2 separate regions of the Homo sapiens genome follow, and region 1 is linked to region 2. Evidence: fine-mapped expression QTL. A gene starts in region 2. The other region holds a variant in brackets. All regions are shown on one strand. Distances are between the middles of the regions.

Evidence for each region. PIP is the estimated chance that this variant, and not a neighbour inherited with it, causes the effect.
Region 1: its variant is the best candidate, but not a certain one, in a credible set for the expression of LNCSRLR in fibroblasts (GTEx, PIP 0.55).

The regions. Positions count from the first base shown.
Region 1 is chr3:146,115,390-146,120,789 of GRCh38, forward strand. All of the region lies in intron 3 of PLOD2 (procollagen-lysine,2-oxoglutarate 5-dioxygenase 2), which reads right to left. Among named protein-coding and RNA genes, the nearest start is that of PLOD2, 43 kb to the right of the region's middle. The variant T/C (reference allele first, on the strand shown) is at 2,566.
Region 2 is chr3:146,067,028-146,072,427 of GRCh38, forward strand. It overlaps LNCSRLR (lncRNA sorafenib resistance in renal cell carcinoma associated), which reads right to left and starts at 2,158. Exons shown (of 2, transcript NR_146297.1): 1 at 1,792-2,158. PLOD2 (procollagen-lysine,2-oxoglutarate 5-dioxygenase 2) reads right to left here. Exons shown (of 20, transcript NM_182943.3): 18 at 4,250-4,396; 19 at 4,015-4,140; 20 at 2,413-3,845. The coding sequence ends at 3,690.

The DNA of each region.
Region 1 (5,400 bases), 48 kb after region 2:
AGATTTTCTAAGTGTTTTTCCTTTTTGTCCTTCTGTGTTCCCTACTTCTGTGACAACATCAACCACATAGTCACCTAGGTTGAAAATCTTTCATTCACCCTTCACTCCTCTCTTTCCATGGCCTATCTCATGGAATCTTTTCCTTAATCCTATTGATTCCATCTACTTAATTTATTTTGCATTCAAATCCTCTCCACTCCCACTAGAAGGCACAAGGCTAGATTAATTTTAAAACCCTAGAGACCTCTACATTACCCATCTCTTCCTCACTCATAAATAAGACTGTCTGACAAACTATTTTAAAAATGATTCTGTGCCAGTTCCCAGACTGTATCAATGGTTCTCAACTATGGCCTAAAGCGGGAGTCAGTAAATATTTACTCTCTGGCCTTTTACAGAAAATATTTTAGGTCCTGATGACCATATTGTCTGTCACAGTGACTGAACTCTGTCACTGTGTTGCAAAAGCCACCACAGACAATATGTAAACAAATGAGCACAGCTGCATTTCAATAAAACTTTTTACAAAAACAGGCAGTGGTACAAGCCACAGAATCCATCATCTTGAGTCTCAACAAGAAGCAAAAGCTCCCATATAGCCAAAAAAGAAAGCAACAGAAGTGTTCCCTAACCTTGTCATTTAGCCCCAATCCTTTATCATTATTGGCATAAACTTCAGCAAAAATTATAATCATCCAAACTATTAGCAGCACAGAAGTAGCTTCACACCTGATAATTCTTTCATCATATCTTCACCTGAAGCATATGTCTATATTTCCAGAGATAATTAACATCACAAACCAATACTATGGATCCACTCCTAACCACCCACCCTCAAAACACACAGACACAGACACACAGACACAGACACACAGACACACACACGCACACACACAGTTAAAAACACCCACGTACCCAGTTGACTTTGCACAACAGATTATGATAAAATCACAATAAAATGATTAAAATTATTTTATAAATTTTGGAGGGAGGGAAAGGGAGTTAGTTGGCATAAAACAAATACAATTTTAACAGATAAATATTGAACCATCCTGGCATTCCTGGGATAAATCCCACTTGATCATGGGGGATATTTTTGTTGTGCTGTTGGAAAGAAAATAAGTATATCAATGGGATACCTATACTTCCATGTTTACTGCAACACTACTTATAATAGTAAATATATGGAACAAATCTAAGTATGTATCAACAGATGAATGGATAAAGGAAATACGGAGTACACACATAATGGAATATTATTCACCCATAAAAAAGAAGGAAATCCTGTTATTTGCAACAATAAAATGGTTACAACTGGAGGTTACTAGGTTAATGATATAAGCCATGCACAAAAAGACAGTATCAGATGGTCTCACTCATATATGGATATCTTCAGTTTTCCTTTTGTTCTGAGAATAACCTAAAACCTTGCCAAATATCTAAATTTTTTTATCTAAATTAAATATAATAAATCTTACCCTACAGATTATAAAGAGCCAGTTTCTAATTTTAAACGTTCATCCAAAAGTAAGTTTAGAATACATATTCCATGGAAGGAATGCGACAAAATTGTTTCTAAATTAATTCAGGCTTTTTAGCATGTCTAAATGGAATACGGGATAATTATGGGGTATTGGAAACATTCTAAAATTGCATAATGGGGATGACTGCACGACTCTGTAAATTTAATTAAATTCATTGAATTTTACACTTACAAATGTTTATGGCATGTTATATAAATTATGCCCTAACAAAGCTGTGTTTCTTAAAAGGCTCATCTAAACCACTAAGTATATACATCTGTGTATATTTTCATATGATAGTGACCTATGCTTCCATAAAACAGTTGAGTTGTCCTTAAAAATACCACATAAAAAATAAGAATGTTTTGCTTTATTAAAATGAACATATCCTGAATTCTGGACCTTTACCAGAGCTAACCTTAATTAAGAGTTTAGGAATTGTGTTACAGAATGGGCATCATATTTCAAACCATTTACAAACAGTTTAATTCATTCTCCCAGGCCCTAGATTACAATTTTCAACTAGATTCATTACTCTGTATAAACTTTTTAAAAAGGGTGTTGTTTTTAAAAAATAAGAAGGGTAAAAAAAATTTCTTATGTGGCTTCAATTGCTCATCCCTCTTTAACCTCCTGGTTACTTTCTCATGACCCCTAGGTTTTTTCCACAGGATAGTCATGGTAGGTAATGATGCAGAAAATGTTAATGACTCTTCTTAGACAACAACTTGGCTGAGTGGGCACCCATGTTTTCAGTTAGCTGGCTGTTCTCACAGGAGATGTCAGAAATTTTATCTGTTTGTTTCCATTATATATCCCAAACACTAACAGTGCCTGGAAGACACTGTGTCTTCCATTAAAATTTTATTATCTTTTCTGTCAAGCTGGGTCCTAAAGTATCATCTAAATCAACAAACTCAACCTCAAGCAGGCTTTAGGTATATCACAGTGTCCTTCTTCTCATGAGAAAAAAATAGGTCCCTCACTATACCAGTTGTCCACAAGGACAAATATTAGATAGGGGGCCGGAGGTGGGGGATGG[T/C]GATGCGAGAGTGATGGTAGAGAAAAGTTCTTCCTAAAACCCAAAAGGAAGCTTGAGGATGTAAAATCATTTCTGACTCACATGTAGTAACTCTTACAAGGAGAATCTGCCTCAGAGCCAAAGTGAAAATGTACATGTGGCAAGTTTAAGCTGACTAATATGGTTGTTTGAAATCCATGGTAATTTTAAACCAAAACATACCCAGTATTTATTCTACAGAGCTATTTTAATGAACTTGGTATTCTTTTTCTAAGTGTAAAAAAAATAACAAATGCTGTAGAAAAATTCCCAGTACACTATGGCTAACACTTGCCTTACCATACTTCATCTTGCAAAATAGGTAACCACAAGCAGAACTTAATATTTTGTGTAAAATATAACAGGAAAATTTTACAGATGCAAGTGTTATGTATCTTTTGAAAATTTTTAAGTGTGTACGGCACTGGGACTTCATTATATTAACATCTATTTTCATTTCATAATTTATAACTTTCTTATTTATACTAATGCATAAAAATATTACTCTTATTTTCATCTGCAAATAATTTGTGTCTTTATATTTTCAAATTGAGAAAAAATATGTAAAAAGACCTTCCTAAGTTAGAGGGGAAAATTCATGGGGACTTAAAATGAGCAATCAATAACAAAAACAAATAAGACACAGAAAATAAAATAAAGGAAGTAGTAACTAATAACTCATGACAATTTGATGTTATTATAAAATTATAAGAAGATGGCAAAAAAGAGTGGATATTTTAATTAGGAGAGTGAAATATTACACAAAATACATTTACATTAAAAAGGTTCTTCTTTCTTAGTAACACAGGCTTTCTAATGTCTCACTTGTATTTATAACTTTGCGTGGTCTTTTTTCTTCTGTTTAACCAGAATCCATTAAGTTACCCGTCTCAATAGTAAAGCTCACTATGATCTTTATTCTTAACTCAAGACTAAAGTATGAATTTCACAAAAACGTTAGCTCTTGCCATGTTGTCTCATTAGTGTTTATGGTAATTCATCATCTTTAATTACATCATCTCAGACCATAGTTGATATAATTTGAATCTACGTCCCCACCCACATCTCATGTTGAAACGTAACCCTCAGTGCTGGAGGTGGGGTTGGGTGGGAGGTGATTGGATCATGAGGGCAGTTTCTAATGGTTTAGCACCATCACCCTAGTGATGTTCTCATTATAGAGTTCTCATGAGATCTGATTGTTTAAAAGCATGTAGCACATCCCCTCACTTCCTCCTGCTCCAATCATGTGAGACCTTCATTCCTCCTTTGCCTTCTGCCATGATCCTAAGTTTCCTGAGGCCTCTCCAGAAGCCAAGCAGCTGGCCAGCATCATGTTTCCTGTACAGCCTGTGAAATTGTGAGCCAACTAAATCTCTTTTCTTTATAAATTATGCAGTCTCAGGAATTTGTAGCAGCACAAGAACTGATTAATACAATAGTTTTATAACTAGTAATATCTACTTTTGCCTCTTTTTTTTTATTATACTTTAAGTTTTAGGGTACATGTGCACAACGTGCAGGTTAGTTACATATGTATACATGTGCCATGTTGGTGTGCTGCACCCAGTAACTTGTCATTTAACATTAGGTATATCTCCTAATGCTATCCCTCCCCCATTCCCCCACTCCACAACAGGCCCCCGTGTGTGATGTTCCCCTTCCTGTGTCCATGTGATCTCATTGTTCAATTCCCACCTATGAGTGAGAATATGCGGTGTTTGGTTTTTTGTCCTTGCGATAGTTTGCTGAGAATGATGGTTTCCAGCTTCATCCATGTCCCTACAAAGGACATGAACTCATCATTTTTTATGGCTGCATAGTATTCCATGGTGTGTATGTGCCACATTTTCTTAATCCAGTCTATCATTGTTGGACATCTGGGTTGGTTCCAAGTCTTTGCTATCGTGAATAGTGCCGCGATAAACATACCTGTGCATGTGTCTTTATAGCAGCATGATTTATAATCCTTTGGGTATATACCCAGTAATGGGATGGCTGGGTCAAATGGTATTTCTAGTTCTAGATCCCTGAGGAATCACCACACTGACTTCCACAATGGTTGAACTAGTTTACAGTCCCACCAACAGTGTAAAAGTGTTCCTATTTCTCCACATCCTCTCCAGCACCTGTTGTTTCCTGATTTTTTAATGATCGCCATTCTAACTCGTGTGAGATGGTATCTCATTGTGGTTTTGATTTGCATTTCTCTGATGGCCAGTGATGATGAGCATTTTTTCATGTGTATTTTGGCTGCATAAATGTCTTCTTTTGAGAAGTGTCTGTTCACATCCTTCACACACTTTTTGATGGCCCTATTTGTTTTTTTCTTGTAAATTTGTTTGAGTTCATTGTAGATTCTGGATATTAGCCCTTTGTCAGATGAGTAGATTGCAAAAATTTTCTCCCTTTCTGTATGGTGCTGGGAAAACTGGCTAGCCATATGTAGAAAGCTGAAACTTGATCCCTTCCTTACACCTTACACAAAAATTAATTCAAGATGGATTAAAGACTTAAATGTTAGACCTGAAACCATAAAAGCCCTAGAAGAAAACCTAGGCAATACCATTCAGGACATAGGCATGGGCAAGGACTTCATGTCTAAAACACCAAAAGTAATGGCAACAAAAGCCAAAATTGACAAATGGGATCTAATTAAGCTAAAGAGCTTCTGCACAGCAAAAGAAACTACCATCAGAGCGAACGGGCAACCTACAGAATAGTAATATCTACTTTTTAAAACAATAATTCCTTGTCAATAATTTTTTTTTGAAATGGAGTCTTGCTCTGTTGCCAGGATGGAGTAGAGTGGCGCAA
Region 2 (5,400 bases):
TAATAATTATTCTTAAATAATGCTGTGGCTTGCTATTCTAAAAGACCACAAAACAAACAGTTCTGTTTGATACACTGCTTTCATGAAGTCTTGAAGACTTCAATATTCCGCAACAGTTAACCTCTAGTCTAGTCAGAGGGAGTTATTTACACAGACTCAATTATGACTAAAAATTCTACTGGGCTCTTCTGAAACTTTAAGACATCTGTTGAATAACCATTCCAAATTCCAAATGAATGACAAGTTACCAGCATGTCATGTAAAATGGGCTTTAGGGCATAAAAAGCAAATAAATCAAGACATACGTATGTCAGACAGGAAAACAGAAGTGAGTACATAAAGAGATTCTGTGACGAGGATGGACCACTCAACTCATATGTTCATTGTTTTCCACATTTCTATTCCATAGAAGGATATTTGACCTCTTAGTTAAGTTACCAATACAGATAAATTACTAGTGTTTTCAAAGATGAAGCAGAATGAAGATTAATGCACTGGATGACTACTGAAGTATCTATATTAAGGAAAATATTCATATTGATTCCTATGCGCATTAAGAATTAGAAAAAATTCTACCACGGTGAGCATTTAAAGCACCTTGGTAATGTATGTATACACATACACACACATGCGCACACACACACGGTTACTATTGACATCCATATGCTTCCATTTATTCAAATTAGTTACGTGAATGTCTCCTTTTCCTTCTAGTCTTTTTTTCTTTAAACAATCAATATACAAATATATTTCTATAATATTTCAAAAACACAAGTGTAAAACGTAAAAGGCATAAATCCTATTTACTCCTCCGTGATCTCATACCACTCTCCAGAGTTGTTCCTCTCTAGGAAATTTTCTGTAGGTTTATGCACACATATATAGTATTTTGTTTTTAACATAAATGGTATCATACTCTAAATAGTGTGACTTTATCAGGTTCATCTGTCAGAGATATCTGATTGTTGCAGATACACAATAAGCCCTTGGACTACATGTGCTTAAACTACGCGGGCTCATGTGTATGCCGGTTTTTTCTGTCTCTGCCACCCCTGAGACACCCTTCCTCTTCCCCTTCCTTCTCAGCCTACTCAGCGCGAAGACAACAAGGATGAAAACCTTTATGATGATCCACTTCCACTTAATGAATAGTAAATATATTTTATCTTTCTTTATAATTTTTTAAATAACGTTTTCTCTAGCTTATTGTAACAATACAGTGTATAATGCATATAACATATAAAATAAATGTTCATCAGCTGTTTATGTTATCAGTGAGGCTTCCAGTCAACAGTAGGTTATTAGTTGATAAGTGTTGAGGGAGTCAAAAGGTACATGTGGATTTTCGACTGCATGGGGATCAGTGCCTCTAACGCCCATATTATTCAGGGGATAATTGTTTATATATATGGGTGTGTGTGTGTATTTTTTTTAAAAAGCCTTTATTATATTGCATAAAATGAATGAATCAAACAATAGATGTACTTTCTGTATCTTCTGCTCTGTGTGTTTCAAGCTGTATTTTTCTCCATCCTTCCAATTCTACTCGTTTTCCGTTTTTCAAATTTTTTAATCTACTTATGGGAATTTTTCTAATTTTCTCTCAGTAATTATGAATCATCTTTTTAAAGCTACATTTTATATTATTTCATGGAATGTAGGATAAGAGGAAAGACAAAAAAACTGTGCTCAATAGACTACCTGGATCCCATTTCTGAAAACATGGCATGAGACTGAAATAGTTATGCTAAGTAACCACCCATGGATACCAAAATGGAAAATAACTAGTACCTGGGAGATGTCTTTGAACTGTACCACAAGAGATATTAAGCTGGCTTGCACTGGTAGGAACGAACCGATCTGCTTTTATAACCAGAGTCTGTTCCGATGAGTTGGCATCTACATCATACCAGGTGTTACATATTTTGAAAACCATTCCTGATGTACAGTAACATAATTCACAAATCATTACTAAAATGTCTCCTTATCCTAGTTGATGGATAGTAGAAATTTTCTTTGGGTATTAAGTGTCGCCAAAGAAGAGAACAGGAGTAGAACCAACTTCCTTATCTTTTTAAGTCCATCTCACAGTGACTATAATGTCTTCTTCATCAACATATCCTTGGTGCCTGGAACAGTGCCTGACCCATAATAGAGACCCAGAAAATATTAATAAACAAATAAACCTATATTGAATAACATTTGGCTTCTATTTTCTCACTTGGAAAACGAGTTAGATCAAATCCCTAGTCATCCTAAAATTGAAGATTTTATAATTTCATTTATAATTCAATAGTTTCGTATATCATTAAATCTACTAAGCAAAATGAAAAATCAAAGGCTTCATTCTTTCAGACAATTCCATCATGTATTCACGTTGGAAGATAAACACCAATAATAGAACAACAAAACTTTCTAAAATTATTTTATTTTTTATAATTTTCTAACACATGGTGTTAGAAAATGAATTTTGGCACCGTGATTAAGAATTTCTTTTCAAGTTTAACCTTTACATTAAAAACAGTAGCTACAATAAGGATATTTCAACCTTACTTAGAGAAGTGATAAAACATCAAGTCAACAAGTATTTTTGTTGGAGAATTTTTTTATAAGCGGGATAGAGGGAAGTTAACATAGACACTCAGAAGAATAAAATGGAAATTATGCCAGGAAGATAAAAAAGCAAATAACCCTCCCCCCAAAAAAAGAATAAGGAGCGAGACAAAGGGCAAAACGGAAGAAGCAAGGCTCAACAACTTTGTTTTCCTGATATAAAATTCAAGTACTTAAAAAGTTTTTTAAAAAATAATTAAATGCACTACTCATCTCAATGAAATTTTTCGTTTTCCTATTTTCTAGAACTTTCTAAAAAAGGAAACAAAGCAAAAACAACAACAAAAAAAACCTGTTTGACTTAAGGACACTTGCTGATCTTGACACTTGATAATACTTTAAGAAATGGAAAGGTTTTCCTAAATCTAATACCTGCTTAATATAATCCACTTTGGAAGATTCATCTGAAAGAAACATAGGGTTTGATTTTTAATACTAATATAAAATAATCTGCCTTCCAATCAAAACAAAAATGTTTTCAACTGTATACGCTCCTCGGTTGTGTTTTGTACCATTTTCTTGAGGAAAACGTTGTGTAATTCTTTGTGTGTTCCCTTAGTAACTACTGTAAATAAGACCTGCATAGGTGTTCAGAAAAATACTTAGTTGCATACAAATCCAGTTAGAATCTGATTTTCAAGGTTTTACAACATGGTAATTTTCATTTATATCCATTTTGTCTACATTTCCTCTATATTTTGATAAATAAAAATCTTCCCATGCTTTTTTTAAATAAGAAAATATTATTAGTCTTGTTATTTGTACCTAAATATTTTATCAATTTGAAACACAAATTCATAAATTGTCATTATTCTCAGAGGCAACAAAGCATAGAAATAAATATTTAAGTTTTTTCTTTCTTTTCTTCTTCAATCTGTGTTTTAAGGCTCAGAGCAGACATTAAGAAATATCAAACAATTTTTTATAAAAAGTTTTTCAAATGTTTGGCCCAAAGTGAAGTTGTTCTGTTGATGTTATTTAAATATTCCTCTCATCTTCTCAGCCACAACTTCAAAGACGTGTTCATGCCAGTCATTCATCCAAAATAAATTTCAATTCAATGAAAAGTAAATAACTTAGGGATCTATAAATGACACTGCAATGTATCTTGTTCCATTTTTAACAGGAAGTCCTTCATGCAAATGTGTGAGTCTCCCAGGATGCATGAAGCTCCAGCCTTTTCGTGGTGACTCAATAGAGCAATTGTACCTTAGAAATTTGCAACCACCTCCCTAAAAAAGTTAAAATGAAGAAATACATCAGATTATATTTAACCAGTGGCAAAATTCAAATTATGTCATTTGAGCAAAATTTAAAAAAGAAACTAAGGCCTAAGGCAAAGTCCTTTTCATAATGATATATTTCTTTTGAAAAATCTAAAAACACAAGAGTCATAATTACCTGAAAGTCTTCTCCCACGTTATTAAGTGCAATGTTTATGGTAAATGTAGAAGCATCATGATGAGGACGAAGAGAACGCTGTCGTTCAGGGGAGTATTTTACTACAAAATTCAGTAGTGCAAATCCCTGAAAAAGCAAAGTAAGCCAGTGGATTTGCTTATTAATAAAAACATTAAAAAGAACACCTGTGTAAAAATGGGTAAGAAATAGGCTGGAGGGGTGAGAGGATAACTACCTTCGTATAATAGCCTGCAAAGACCTTCAGTGTAACTGGTGCAATGAACTCCCGGATAAAATGAAGCCATACATTCTCCAGATCAACTTGCTTCATGTGGATATCATCAGTTGGGACATTTTCATAACCACCAGATATACGGCTATCCTAGAAACAACATTAATGACATAATAAGCTGTACTCCACGTGCAATTCCCATTTATATTATAGTATTTTTTTTCAACCACAGATCATAATAGACAATAAAAATAACAGTTGTTCCAATGTGGTATATCATCTGCTTTAACTGTAAAATTATCAAAATAACTTAGGTAACAGCTTTGTCAATGATACAATGACGAAACAAAGTAATGTAAGGTCAGTAGACTCCTTTCCTACTTCTTAAATGTATATGTGAAGTTTAGCTATAAAGTAAATAAAATTGACTTCCTAAGCCCTCACATCCTTTCTTAAAAATGAGTCTTTTTTTACAGTGACCCTTTAGGCAGTCTCAGCTGCTTGATGAGCATACACTTAGCATATCTGCTGTCTGTATTACCAAACACTAAAAACAAGCTTTCCCCGCCCTTCCTCACTTCTATTTGTAACACTCAAAAGTTTTTGAATGATTGCTTTTCATTATTTCATCACCCACTAACTTAAGTTCTTCCTTATACTTTAAGCTTCCCTCTCCCTTATCAGCTCATTACCTGGGGGACATAACCGTGCAGAGGCAGTAATATTCCAGAGTATTCTGCTAAAATGGCATGTCTGTTCTCAGAGGGAAAGAAACACATCTAACCACTGGCAGTAGTATTTCCTGCCAAGTCTTTGACACTGAATGCAAATGCAAAACTGAATTACACCTAAGGCACTCAGATCCCTCCTTCCTATCTTTACACACAAAAACAGTTTTCAGAGCCAGATAACATTTGCCTTAGAATTTTCACCACAGCTCACTGTGAAAACGCAAGGAATAAAAAGTGGCCTTGGAAAAGAGTGACATCACTCTGTAAAGACATGTGTTACCTAACAAACTCTGGCCTGAGGACATCGACCCTTAGGGAACATCCAGTGTAATTACATGCATAAATGAGAAACCCGCCCAAACTAATGAAATTACTTAAGTGTTAAAAAAATTGGTTGGTGGGAGAAGTAGACTGAAATCAGAG